Linked DNA regions of Homo sapiens. Changing the gene in region 1 together with any one later gene gives a genetic interaction. Each region holds a gene or a part of one and is shown in the gene's direction. Other genes may lie near its edges.

Region 1 (3,500 bases):
ATGCCTTAAGATAACTGTCCAGGCTAGGCACTGTGGCTTACGCCTGTAATCCCAGCACTTTGGGAGGCTGAGGCGGGTGGATCACGAGGCCAGGAGTTCAAGACCAGCCTGGCCAACATGGTGAAACCCCGTCTCTACTAAAAATACAAAAAATTAGCCGGGCGTGCTGGCAGGTGCCTGTAATCCCAGCTACTTGGAAGGCTGAGGCAGGAGAATTGTTTGAACCTGGGAGGCAGAGGTTGCAGTGATCTGAGATCGCGCCATTGCACTCCATCCTGGGCAACAAGAGTGAAACTCTGTCTTGGAAAAAAGAAAAAAAAAAAGATAACTGTCCAACAATGCTGTGGTTGTTTTTTTCATTTGTTTTCGTTAAAGTTTGTTATGGTGCTAGGATTATTATAAGAAGTGGGAACAATAGCTAATATTTATTGAGTGTCAACTATTTGCCAGGCTCAGGGCTAAGCCCTTTACACTCATTATCTCATTTAGCCCTGCTGCAAGCCTGTGATTCACGCGCTTTCATTATCTCTGTGCTAATGAGGAGGAAAGTGAGGTTCTGAGGTATGGAATAACTTCTCCCGAGTGGCACAGCTAATCATTGGGAGGACCAGCATCTGAACTTGGTTTCTCCTCTCACAGAGCCATGCTGTCATCCCAAGTGCTAGGGCTCTGCTCTTTTCACACTGTAGCCTGCACTGGTCTCACTGTGTTTTCACTCATCTTCCTACCCAGATGCACAAGTCTGGCGTTCTGAGGAAGGCCATTGATTACATCAAATACTTGCAGCAGGTCAATCATAAACTGCGCCAGGAGAACATGGTGCTGAAGCTGGCAAATCAAAAGAACAGTAAGTGTGCTGAGAAAAGGCTTGTCAGCCCTGGCCCAGGTGGGGCTTTGTAAAAGCAGATCATTTTCACCAGGTGGGGTTTTCTTTGCAGAGCTTCTAAAGGGCATCGACCTAGGCAGTCTGGTGGACAATGAGGTGGACCTGAAGATCGAGGACTTTAATCAGAATGTCCTTCTGATGTCCCCCCCAGCCTCTGACTCAGGGTCCCAGGCTGGCTTCTCTCCCTACTCCATTGACTCTGAGCCAGGAAGCCCTCTATTGGATGATGCAAAGGTACAGACTTTTGAAATCTCCTGATCCCTGGAATCTTTCCCATTTCCCCTAAGAAGATAGCTGGGAGGTCACAGTTATGAGGCCAGGCCGCATGTTAAGAGGGCCTAGCCTGGAGAAAAACAGGAATTCTGTGAAATTAGCCAGGTCCTGGAGAATAAAGAAAGAAAAAACTGACTCCGGGGGGAAACAGTCCCTCAGGTTTAACTGGTCCTTGCCGATAGGCCCCGTCAGAGAGGAATGAGTGCCAGATCCAGAACGAGAATGCAGAGTAGCTGTTGTGGGGGCGTTGGGAGCTGCTGGAGGCACCTCATTGCTTCACTCTGCCTTTAATGGGCCTGGCAAGACCACTTTGGGAGGCTGATCAGTTGGTTTAGGATGAGGCTGCCTCTGGGTCCTCTTTTCAGAAATGATTACAATTTGCAGTCTAACAGATAACATTTTACCTATGGGCCTTTAATCGTCAAAGCCCCTGGCAATGGTAGTTTAATGGAATTACTTAAGAGACGCTCTGAGCCTAATGATCTTCCTGGGAACCTGTAGAGACCACTGGGTTTTGTACTGTATTTTGACTTCGGCAGTTTCTGACTCTGAAAGCACAAAGTTCCCTCCTAGTGTTTGTTTTTGACTAAGCTGTTTATTGTATCATATACTTAATTTTACTAAGGAAGCTCCATTTTTGAAATATTCTTATAAATGTGGTTCTGTTTGGCAACAACAGGCTGTTTGACATATAAATTGAATTAGCTGGGCTTCTGAGTCATCAGAAGAAAATCTTAAATGGTTTTAAAATATTGAAAAGAAATGACATGCTATATACACATTGGGGCGCAGGGGAGATCTGGCTTCAGCCCTCCTGCTGTAAAATGGAGAGTGGGGTGGGTGTAGACAATGATACAGTTTTAGAACAGGTAAAATCCTTTAGATAGATTCACACTAAATACGGTCTTTGATCAACTTCATTGAGGTGTAATTTAAATGCAATAAAATATACCTACTTTAAAAGTACAGTACCAAGAGTTTTAACATAATGTACAGTGCTATGTAACTGTCACTGTAATCAAGATATAGAACATTTCCATCACCCCAAAAAGCTCTTTTGTACACCTTTGCAGGTAGTTTCCCACACCCCTCTCCAGCCTCAGACAATGACTGATTCATTGGTTTCCTGTTACTTTAGATTCATTTTGCCTGTTCTGGAATTATACAGAAACAGAATCATACAGTGTGTTCTCTTTTGTGGTAGATTTCTATTTTAAAAGAAAATCTCTTCTACCTTTGTTCTTTGGAACATGTACTTTTCTCAGTTAGCAAGCAGGTGAATGTGCCAATGTTTGAGCAGCAGTTAGTGAATTATAGGCTTCTCAGTTCCCATCTGGCCTTAGTCCTGAGTTAATCGACTTGAATTTAAACCTCATAACCATTTCTCAATATATATATATGTATTTATAAAGTGCTGTAAAAACCTATGCAGTATTTATTCCAACCTCGAGGCCTTGTTTTGAAGGTCAAAGATGAGCCAGACTCTCCTCCTGTGGCGCTGGGCATGGTAGACCGCTCACGGATTCTTCTGTGTGTCCTCACCTTCCTGTGCCTCTCCTTTAACCCCCTGACTTCCCTGCTGCAGTGGGGAGGGGCCCACGACTCTGACCAGCACCCACACTCAGGCTCTGGCCGCAGTGTCCTGTCATTCGAGTCAGGTAGGTGGAGGCCCCTTGCCCCACCTGGGCATGGCTGGACCACTATGGCAGGAGAAGGACCCTGTGTACAAACTTCTTGGCTTGGCTACCAGGTCCCAAAGGGCTTTTATAGTGGGCCCCCACCTGCTTGCTTCTGATAGGGACTGGCATAAGTTCCATTTTAGAAGTAACAAGGCAAGCCCAAGTTCAGTCAGAATGAGCAAAACAAATCAGGGACCCACACTACTCTAAATACCCTGGGGTGGAGGGGTGGTACCTATTTGAAGGAGGATATCGTGTTTTTTATCTGAGGTTGCAAAACCAATGCCTCAACCCTTTCAAAACAAAGATTTTTATGGCACTCAGCTCCATAATGAGAAGGGCTACAGTCATTAGCCCTGTTTAGATTATAGAATTATTTGCCCTTTCTTCTGAAAATGAGGTAGAAGACTCTTTCCTGTGATAGTGCTGGGGTCTGTCAGGTGCCTGGCTGCTCCGCAAGGCCTTTCCTAGCAGACTCTGCTGAGACGCTCCTTCTTAGGTTCTGGGGGCTGGTTTGACTGGATGATGCCTACTCTTCTCTTATGGCTGGTAAATGGTGTGATTGTCCTGAGCGTCTTTGTGAAGCTGCTGGTTCATGGGGAGCCAGTGATCCGGCCACACTCGCGCTCCTCGGTCACCTTCTGGAGGCACCGGAAACAGGC
Region 2 (3,500 bases), on another chromosome or scaffold:
CAACAAACTGAACATTGTCAGTGTGATTCTGGTCACATAGGCCAAATCCAGCCAAATGCCAAAATGACACTAGATTTAGAATGGAAAATTTTAAGATCACATGTGTCAAGCAGTATTAACCTGACAAAATTCCAGAAGAGGAAAGAATTTGGATAAACTCTTAAGAGTTCACCATAATGGGATGTGACTGTGTGTTTCTAGCCAAGATGATATGTGACAGTTCTGGCAATAAGAATATATCCTACACAGATGAATCATTTTGGCAATGATGTAAGCATAGATACATCATGATTTAGAATGTTTTTAATCAGTGTTGTGCATACTAGACAATCCCACTTCTGCCAAAACCTCTGTCCAGATGAGTCATATCAGTTTATTTAGAGCTGAAATCCTAAAAGGTCTACAGCGTTATAAATGTTCATCGACATTTTTTAGTTACTCTAATTTGGAGAAGAGTTTATTTGGTCTATACCCTTATCGTGCATAAAATAATAACCCTTTCCAAATATATTGATATCAAGTAGTGAGTTACTTGAATTGCTACTTGTGAATATATGATGCTAATTATTTTAATCTGTGATGGAATTTCCTTTAAAGGATGAAGATTTACACCATTATTCTCCAGTTGGGTATGATTTTTAAAATTAGCATAGGTTTTCTGTGTGCAAGCTCTCCTTACAGGCTTAATGTTTCAACAGCTTTGCTGATCAGATACAAATCAGGAAAGGGATAGAATGTTAGATGATGTAGAAGGGAACCAAAAGAAAGTTTTCTCCCTTCTGCATCTGGAAGGTTTGTTGCTTCATGTACATCCTGTACAGCTAAAAAGGAGAATTGAAGTCGTAGTGAAAGAGTTCGGATATTAGTTTCTACATGCAATCTAGTTTATAAAGGTTGCTTTGCATTTATCAAGATACAAGAGCCCCAGAGATTTATGAGATAAAAAATACTCTTTAAGCCCTTTTTCAAATGTTTGGGATTTTGAGGTCAGATGTCAGATCCAGGGTGTTCTCTTCCTTTTGAATTATCCAACCAGGCCACTCAGATTCAAGGACGTGAAAGGAAGAAAGAATTAGTGGATTATTTCTAATTTGCGGATTAGTGCTAGGAAAAGAATAATAGCAGGGAAGTTTGGCTTCTTTTAGCTGTGCATTTTAACATTATTCATATGTAGCAGAAACCAGAAGATTGGGTTCCATTCTCCAAGAATTTGCTCTCATATGATGCCACTTGAAATATAATGCAGTATATGGAGCTCATAAAAAGGGAAGGAAAAAAAATTCTCATGCAAAACATTTAGTTCCAACTGAAACATTGAAATTCTTATTTTTTCTCTAAACTTAAGCAAACCTGAAAGAATTTGCTTTCCTGATGAGTATTCTGATACATTTCAAAAGTCATGAGAAAATGAGGGAAAAATCAGTCAGATAATAATAAAATTTAAACCATATGAAATTGCAAATATCCAACCATTTTTGGCCTACAAACTTGGTACCATTATCTGGTCATTTTTGAGCTACAAAAATGGTAATTTTGTGTGGTTCAGCCTAACACATTATTGTAGAAATCCATTATTTGCAACAATATGACAATTTTGCCTGATGGAGTAGAAGTATATTAGAATGCTATGGAAAGACTTTGCTTAGATATAAATCAGTAATAGGTTCAGCATGTTCTAGAGAAAACAACTGATTTATGAGGGTTTTGTTGTTCACATTTTTGTGTACATCTATTTTTTTAAAAGAGATCATTTATTTTACAGTATTTCCAAAGTTTGTCTCTCGAATATCGTTTTTTGTAATGGTCCATGGTCATTATGGGACTAATTTACAAGGAGATTATGTAATTTAGGCTTGTAATTCGTTCTTGCCCTTTTATTCTTATGCTCCACCAATCATATTAGGGTGAGAGTAGGTGGAAATAAATAGGTTTAGGGGAATGGAACAAAACAAGTTTTATTGTTCTATTTTTAACCATAAAGTAAGACAGGAACAGGACTTGGGGGCACAAGTCCAGGAAAGCAGAACTCAGTCAGAGGAATACAAAGGGGCTTTGTCTTTGACCCAGGATTCCCAGATATCCCCTGGGTGGTCTGTCTACCCGGTCGTGCCCAGGGAATGAGGGAGTGACAGACCCTGTAAAGGTTGGGCAGCAAGAGGCAACATCAGGACACTGAACTAAACATAGACCCTGGGGAGAAATACCTAGTATCTACATTTGGACTAAACTCTCAGAAAGTCACAGCTGGGCAGTCTTGACCAGATGGATATACAGAAGCTCACAACCGAAACAGGTTCACAGTTATTGTCAAGGAAACCCTGCATTTCACCAAGGCTACTTTATTACTCAAGAACCAAAATATAGACAGATGGAGCCCAACAGAGGGATTCTATAGCCCCTTCTCTACACTGATTGGTGTAGCAACACTAACATTATTTTGCCTCATCAGTAAAATAAATTTCACATCAGCCTACTATTCATCTTGTGTGTATGTGTGTCTTTATAGCCTATGTGCATAATATATATTATATATCACATTAGCTGTATTATATATCATATGCAATATGATATGTAGTAAGCTCATGTTATGTATTTATATGTATACAATGTGTTTATAACATATATTATGTAATATATATTGCTTGAATATTTAAATAGAAGCTATTCTCTGTGTATACTATCTGGTATATAGGAGTCCAACATTTTGTATGTAAATATATAAAATATATTTGAATAGGATATGCCATATATACATATGTTTATATATCACATTTGTATTCTATACGAAAAGAAATTAAGCAATGACCATAGCATATATTATGGGCCACATTTATACTTATACACACTGGTCTTATATAATGTACATACACACAATATCTAAATACTTTAAACAAGGAAGAGCTATAAGCAAATTCATTTCTAGGGCTCTCTTTTACAGCTATCTAGTGAAGAAAAATCATTCCTAAGACTAAAACCCAATGCTCTGGTTAGAATTTTCAAAATGTGACAAGTCTCTAGTACAAAGAATAAGATGTGTGTGTTCCCCCTGATGTGAGCATCTGTCTTTACTTAAACAGAGTACACCTTTATTCTTACTCTTAACTCTGAGACAAAACAGGCTGCAATAAACCAAACAATTCAGCTTGTAAAGTAAATGTTTATAACTGGCAAAGTGTAAATGTAACCCAATTAATAAACTTCTCCCTGAAAATAGATGTTACTCAACCCAGACATATATACACTTTAAATTTCTTCTCAAAAACACAAAAATCATGAATTTATGTGGATGACATTGAAAAACAGGCATCTTATAAACATGAGCTACTTAGTGAAGCTTTTCTAAGAATAAAATAGGCTTTAAGCAGATTTTGCTTATGGATTATAGTCTCTGAATTTTTGAGACGAATGTAGTAATTTTATTTCCATATATGAAATTTGGCACTGCCCAGGCATGCTATAAACAGCTTCATTGACTCATGATATTAAATGTTTTCACACTG
Region 3 (4,069 bases), on another chromosome or scaffold:
ATCCCAGCTACTCGGGAGGCTGAGGCAGGAGGATTGCCTGAACCTGGAAAATGGAGGTTGCAGTGAGCCGAGATCGTGCCATTGCACTCCAGCCTGGGAAACAAGAGCAAAAAATTCCTCCTCGACAAAAAAAAAAGAAAGAAAAGAAAATGGAGCTGGAACTGCTGACGTGCAATAAAGCCCTGGGAGACGGACAGACGTCAGGGACTGTGCTGGGCGCGGGGGCTGATGCCTGTCATCCCAGCACTGTGGGAGGCCCAGGCAGGCAGATCACTTGACACCAGGAGTTCCAGACCAGTGTGGGCAACGTGACAAGATCCCATCTCTACAAAAAATACCAAAACTAGCCGGGCGCGGTGGTTAGGTGCCTGTAGTCCCAGCTATTTAGGAGGCTGAAGTGGGAGGACTGATCGAGTCCAGGAGGTCAAGGCTGCCGTAGCCGTGATTGAACCACTGTACTGCGGCCTGCGTGACAGAGTGAGACCCTGTCTCAAAAAAAAGTCAGAGTCGGGAGTAACGTTCAGAGAAAATGCTTGGGGTTTTGGATGGGAAAAGTTTTGCCCCTGACTAGAAATGATGGGCTGGGCGCCGTGGCTCACGCCTGCAATCCCAGCACTTTGGGAGGCCAAGGTGGGCGGATCACAAGGTCAAGAGATCGAGACCATCCTGGCTAACACAGTGAAACCCCGTCTCTACTTAAAAAAAAATACAAAAATTTGCTGGTCGCGGTGGTGAGCGCCTGTAGTCCTAGCTACTAGGGAAGTTGAGGCAGGACAATCACTTGAACCAGGTATGCAGAGGTTGCAGTGAGCCGAGATCGTGCCACTGCACTCCAGCCCTGGTGACAGAGTGAGACTGTCTCCAAAAAAAAAAAAAAAATGATGGAACACAGGTTCTTGTCCTGGAAAATCTGCCTTTCCTCTGCTCGGGATGGCTGGGTTCAGACGCGAGGGTGCCTGTGGTCCCTGGCAGCCTGCTGAGTGCCTGCCGTGTACGGGCCCCACACCCTGCGGCTCACGCGCATCCCAGGTCCCCTCTCATCCACTCTGAGACGCAGGCGGAGGACACCGACAAGGTGTTCAGATGAGGGAGCAGCGGGGCTGGGGCTGGGACAGGGGGTGGGGGGCTGGCCTCCAGGTGGCAGCTACTGATGGGGCAGCTACCGGAGTCAAGCCCTTTGAAATGAGGTCTTTGTGTGGGGGAGCTGCAGCCCCGCCCGGCACAGGGAGGGAGGCGGCCCCGGTGGGAAGGGCCCTGCAAGGCCTGCCCAGAGCACCAGGAGCTGGCTGGGGCTGGAGACTGGCGCTGCTGGAGCTGCAGCTGCCTGGCAGAGGGGAAACTGAGGTGGGGGTGTGGCTCTGGGACAGACATCAGGGCAGGACCTCCCTAGCCAGGGTCCACGGTCTGGCTGGGGGATGTGGACTGGCTGCAACGTGGGGCGGGGTTAAAGGTCTTCCAGGGCAGCCCTGGAGAGCACCACTCTGCATTGAGCACCGCCCGGGCCACAGGCCTGCAGTGGCAGGAGCATGAGTGAGCAGGGGAGGGAGACGGAGGAGGAGGAGGGGGGAGGTGGTGCTTCCGACACAGCGCCCATGCTGCCCCGGGGACCTCCCGACCACCAGGCCTCAGCCCTGACGTGCCCAGGGTGGTCGGGGCCCCCGCTGCTGCCCGGCCGGCTGCTGGCCGGGCTCCTGCTGCACCTCCTGCTGCCCGCCGCAGCCTTCCTGCTGGTGCTCCTGCCCGCGGCCGCCGTCGTCTACCTGGGATTCCTGTGCCACTCGAGGGTGAGCCTGTGCCCCGTGGGCGGGGGACTAGCTGGGGTCCTGGGGAGTGGGCGTGCCCTGGGTCTGAAGGCACTGTGCCCCCTTCCAGAATTGCCCCTTGTCCTCAGAGACACGTGTGCCCCTCCCTGGCAGCCCCTTCTCCCAAGCACCCCCACCAGCCACAGCCAAAGAAGAGCTTTTGTTTTTCACCCAAGGGACAGCTCTGTCCCTTCCCTGAGGCCTCCCAGCCTTGTACCAGGGGCCACCAGGGCCTGGACAGCTGGGTGGGGGTGGGGAGAGAACGGGGTTCCAGGAAAAGAAGATGAAAATGTCGTTGAAGTTTCACTAACCCACAGCCCCCAGCCCCTCCCCAAACACACAAGGCCCCTCCCAGGCCCTCCTGCCAGCGTGGGGCTTCCCCACCTGCAGAGTGGGCTGTGGCCTGCTCTGGGCCCCGGGCCCCTTTCTGCTGGCACGGGGGCTGGCGCCAGCTGGTGATGAGAGGGCGCAGGAGGGCAGAAGCGGGCAGAACGCGGCAGTGGGCGCTTTTTCTGAGCCTCCCCTCAAGGGACCCTGCTCAGCCCTTTACCTGCTGCGTCCCGGATCTCCTGTTCACCCCTCAGCACTGCCTGGCCCACAGCGGCCCGCCCCCTCCCCTCTCCCCGCCCTGCCTCTCCTTCGCCCAGGCCCTAATCCTTCATCCCTCCATCTCCCCCCTCCCTCTTCCCGCCCTGCTCAGCCCGCCACGGCCCCTCTACCGCCCCGCCCCGCTCTTTCATCTCTATCGCCCACTCCTCTCTCCCGCCCTGCACCCCTCCGTCTCCCTTTGCCGTGGCCCTGCATCCTTTCCTCCACCCCGCTCTCTCTCCCCTCCCCGCTCCACCCTGCTCCCGCCCATCCATCCCTCACCGTCCGGCCCTCACCGCCCCTTCATCACCCTGACCCACCCACACCCTCTCCTCCGCGCCTCCCCTTCCCCTCCATCACCCTGCCCTGCCCCTTCCCCTCCATCACCCTGCCCTGCTCCCCTCTTCTCCCCCTTCCCTCCATCATCCCGCCCGCTCCCCTCTCCACCCCTCCCCTTCCCCTCCATCACCCTGCCCAGCCCCCTCCCCTCCATCACCCTGCCCTGCCCCCAGCCCTCCATTACCCCGCCCCGCCCCCCACTGACGGCCCGCCCGGCCCCCAGGTCCACCCCGCTCCGGGTCCCCGGTGCCGCGCGCTGTTCTCAGACCGCGGCTCCGCGGCGCTCATCGTGTTCGGGCTTCTCTCGCTGCCGCCGCTGCTGGTGCTCGCCTCGGCCGTCCGCGCCCGCCTAGCCCGGCGCCTCCGCCCGCTGCTGCCTCCGCCCGCTGGGACCCCCGGACCCCGCCGCCCCCCGGGGCGCCCCGACGAGGACGAGCAACTCTGCGCCTGGGTGTGACCCGGCGGCCGCTGCGAAACCCCGGGAGGCCTCCGAGCTCGCGCGCGACCCCATCGCGTGGCCCGGCCCGGAAAACTGAGGGTCGCCCCCGCTGCCCCTTCCTGGCTGGGCGCGCAGCGCTCCCGGCTTACGACCCCGGCCTCCCCCGCCCGCAGCCCCGCCCCCGCCACGGAGGGCAGGGGAGGGGAAGAGAGGGGAGGGGAGGGGAAGAGAGGGGAGGGGAGGGGGAGAGAGGGGAGGGGAGGGGAGGGGAAGAGGGGAGGGGAGGGGAAGAGAGGGGAGGGGAGGGGAAGAGAGGGGAGGGGAGGGGAAGAGAGGGGAGGGGAGGGGAAGAGGGGAGGGGAGGGGAGGGGAGGCAAAGAGAGGGGAGGTGAGGGAAAGAGAGGAGAGGGGAGGGGAAGAGAGGGGAGGGAAGGGCAGGGCAGGGCAGAGCCCGGCAGGCAGCCCTCAGAGGAGGGGCGCAGGCCCCAGCCCAAGGCCTCCCGCGCCTGCCCAGGTCCCGGCCTCCATCGTCCAGGGCTCTGGGGCTCCCAGGGGAGACACCCACGCTCGGCCAAGCCCAGGGTTCCAGAAGCCCAGGGGTGGCGGCAGCCGGGCTCAGCCTATGGCCAGGCTCGCATTCAGACATGCGCCAGCCTCGGTCGGCTCTCTCCGGGAGACACTAAGATCTCCTCACTGACTTTGGTGTTCCTTGGTCTCACCAGCGCGTCCTAGCTGTGCCGAGCTCACACCCACCCTGTTTGGTGTAAGCCACAGGTCCACAACGTTCATCAGCTCTGGAAATCCCTCAACAATTGTGTCCAGTTTCACCACGAATTCCTTCTCCATATCCTCACCATTTTCTTTTACCCCCTCATCAAATTACTCCCTTCCGTCTAATCTG
Region 4 (3,500 bases), on another chromosome or scaffold:
TAAAAATATCTGTGTAACACATTTTACTTATAATATTTTTGGTGAAATGATCTTATGCCGTATAAGAATACATGCAAATAGAAATACACACACACACACACACACACACACACACACACACTTCTGTTCATAGGATTTTGTTTATTTGGTAGGAGGTTTTGTATTATTTTGTGACAACTGCAAGTAAGCACTTTCCATCATGAGAAATTTAGATAGTGAGTGAGTACAAGTTCCTTAAAAAAAAAAACAAATAAAACAAACAAAAAAAACCACTTTCCCTTTTACCCTTTTGTCTATATTAGCTAACTAATCCTCCCAGTCATCCACTTAGCTTTGCTGGTGGAGGTCACATGGGAACCTTTGCACAATCTGAGGTTTGCACATTCTCTCTAAATAAACAATTGCGTTTATCACTAGATATTCATAATTGGAGCTCTGGCTTCTTATTTTGTAAAGTTCACTTTCCAAACCATGTATAATAAAACTAATTGCCATTATGTGTTATTCTAAAATATTTTAAGAACTTTTCCTGGGGAAGATGTATTTTAAATTACCATTTTCTTACCTAAGCACGGCTATCTCAAATATTGAAATAGGCTTATACAAACTTACCTTAAGAGTAACCTTCTTTTTAAGTTTTTAGTAACATTATAAAACAGAATGTGATTTCCTAATTTTAGAATGTCAGTTACAGACAAGTTAAAAACTCTGAATTAAAGAAAAATTAATAACCATTAATTTTTGCATACTAAAAATATGAGTATGTGCCACTTGTTATGCTGTGTTCCAGGAGAACAAAGACAAATAAAAGGTAGTAAGTCTCTGCCTTTACTGGTGGAAGAGGTAGTAGACATGGAAAGACACAATGGTGGGAGAGGCTCCCAAGGTGCTTTATAAGGAATAACAAAAAGATTAGGTTTGTGTTGCAGGAAAGTAAGCCTTCCAAAATAAAATACAAGATGAAAACAAGAAAATTTATACAGCCCCGACTGTTTAAGGGTCACAAGCTAAGCAGAGGGTATTAAAACAAGATTTCCATCTTTCAGGAGCCCATAATTCCATTTCATGTCATACAAACCATTTCTTTTATATTATTATAATAGGAAAGATAGTAATTCAACTCACCAATGAGGTCCATGAACCATTTTATTCAGTAGAGCTGAATAACATAAATAACATAAATAAATGTACCCCAAAGATTATCCATCAGTCAACTCTACCAAACCAGTTATTTTTCCAAGGCTGAATAATTATGATCATGTTAAAATGAGCTCTTGTCCCTTGTTTTGTCTGATCCAGTTTTCTAGCTTCAAGCCAGGCATTTTTAGAGCTCTATAATTTATTAATATCAAGTATCATAATATCACTAGGACCTCATAAGGATGGTCAAATGAGAGAGCAGGACAAATAATCTTATTTATCATTTAGAATGAAAAATAATTAGCTTTATTGCGGTCTGGGACTTATTTCAAGTTGGTAGAATCCATCCAGGAAAGACCATATTTGAGGTCTGCCAATTCTTGGTCCACAAACAAGAAACTTTGAATCAGTCTTTCACCTCTGAAATGGGTCTTAGAAAAATCAGATTTGAAAGATAGCACGCAAAATTGAAAACAAATATGTTAGGATGAGATTATAGGTGTTGTTTAAACACTTAAAAAATATTACTGCAGCATAATTTTTAGTTAGAAATTTAATTATTGAATTCAATTCCCTCAATTCTTCAGTGAAATAAATTGGGTTCCAGAGAGACTGAGTACTGCCAAAAGTTACAGTAAAAACAATTGAAGAGTAAGAGCTACAATCCAGGATGCTTGACTTCTAGCCCAGTTCTCTTCTTGAGACACTGGAAGTGTCTCAAGAGCAACAAATTAAAAACTTTTGGAGGTAACAATACTTTTTTCCCCTTCTGGAGAGATTAATATAAATAAGACATTGTAGGGAAAATAGATATAATTAAAGTTACTGATATAAAGATTTATACTGATATAAAGTTACTGATATAAAGTTTTCTATTTTAAACAGCCAATACATAAGTATAAAATTAGTATTTAAAGCAAAAGAGCTAAAAGCCCTGGTATTTTTCTCAATACTTTGCTCATTTGGAAAAAAATGAAAATAAATATATAACTACAGCAGTTTCTGAACTACCATTATTAAGTGAAATACAGTCAATAACAATATAAGTAAGTGCCTTAAGAAATGTCTTGAAATGTCTGTAATAATGTTAAAATAGCTGCCATACTTTACATTTGACTCACCTAGCTTATCATTAATATATGAGTGCCTACTATGTGCAAAGGACCTTTAAAAGGACAAAGGAGTATAAAGATAAATCCTTCCAGAGTTCAACAAAAAAGATACATGTTTAAATTAACATGGATTCAAGTTTACATGGTTTCAAGTTTGAGATAACATTTAAGCTGGACTTTAAAGATAGGCAGCACTAAAGGAAGCAGGGATGAAAGGAAGTGACATTTTAAACAGAGAAGTTAGTATGAGTTAAGGTAGCAAACGAGAAAGTTCCTAGCATATGTAGGGAACAAAGGTTACTTTCAAGGTGGAATATAGGGTGCCCTGAGGGGAAAAGTGGGAAGTAAATTTGTAAGGCCAGTGCAAATTGGGATTGTAGACGTTAATTCATAGGGAATGGGAATCCAAAATGAATCAAAATAAAAATATAATGATTGGTCTAGAAATACTAAGCCATAAACAAAATCTGGGTGAAAACATCTAATAGTCAACTACAGGCTTAAATTACTAAGGAAAAAAAAAAGTTCCCAACTATTGCAGTTGTTTCACATACAACAGTAATTCTATGAAAGATTTTATAGTATACTGAATTATGGAGGCACACTGATATTTTTTAAAATGGCCCAAAGTGGTTTGCCTCATAACTTAAAAAAAAATTTTTTTAACCATGGATTTAAGAGTCAATAAGGGTTTTTCACAGGTTTCTAATGTACAGATAAATATATGTATATTTTTCTAAAGTAGAACATTAGATCTTTCTCTAAGAGTATGATGATGACCTAGGCTGGACAGAAGGAAAAAAAAAAACTATGTAGAAGAGAAAAGTATAATAATTTTAAGAGGTGATAAAAGAGCAGGAAAGGGACTAGTGCCTTTCAAATCCTCTAGGTTGGTTCCCAAGCTGTGAGTTTTTGTTTAGCTGGTAAAGGTGACAGTTGAGGGGAAGTGACAGTGGATAATAGCACATAATTTGCAGTGAAGGAGATGATTACAAACATTCATAATATAGGATGGTGGTAGTAGAAAGAGAGGGTATGGAGTTATGCAGGCCTGAATTTCAATGCTAGTCATGTGATCTTGAAAACATTTCTTAACTTCCCCATAGTTGATTTTCTTCTATAAAATTAGGATAACAAATATTTACCTTACAGGGGAGAATTAGAGCATAGGAAAGAACTTGATAAACATTCAATACGTGATAGCTCTTCAATAAAAACCTTTTGTTAAGATCCCACTGTGTGCTTACC

Evidence for each region.
Region 2: changes in SREBF2 (region 1) and PTCHD1 together harm fitness less than expected from each alone (positive genetic interaction), as found in Homo sapiens cells (one large-scale study listed by BioGRID).
Region 3: changes in SREBF2 (region 1) and TMEM278 together harm fitness more than expected from each alone (negative genetic interaction), as found in Homo sapiens cells (one large-scale study listed by BioGRID).
Region 4: changes in SREBF2 (region 1) and PELO together harm fitness less than expected from each alone (positive genetic interaction), as found in Homo sapiens cells (one large-scale study listed by BioGRID).

The regions. Positions count from the first base shown.
Region 1 is NC_000022.11:41,874,605-41,878,104, forward strand, and holds part of SREBF2 (sterol regulatory element-binding protein 2), read left to right. Parts: intron 1-732; coding exon 733-847; intron 848-938; coding exon 939-1,120; intron 1,121-2,624; coding exon 2,625-2,817; intron 2,818-3,337; coding exon 3,338-3,500.
Region 2 is NC_000023.11:23,383,349-23,386,848, forward strand, and holds part of PTCHD1 (patched domain-containing protein 1), read left to right. Parts: intron 1-3,500. UniProt on the Homo sapiens protein: Required for the development and function of the thalamic reticular nucleus (TRN), a part of the thalamus that is critical for thalamocortical transmission, generation of sleep rhythms, sensorimotor processing and attention. Can bind cholesterol in vitro.
Region 3 is NC_000001.11:1,424,602-1,428,670, forward strand, and holds the start of TMEM278 (transmembrane protein 278), read left to right. Parts: upstream 1-1,269; 5' UTR 1,270-1,526; coding exon 1,527-1,784; intron 1,785-2,952; coding exon 2,953-3,186; 3' UTR 3,187-4,069.
Region 4 is NC_000005.10:52,794,416-52,797,915, forward strand, and holds part of PELO (protein pelota homolog), read left to right. Parts: intron 1-3,500. UniProt on the Homo sapiens protein: Component of the Pelota-HBS1L complex, a complex that recognizes stalled ribosomes and triggers the No-Go Decay (NGD) pathway.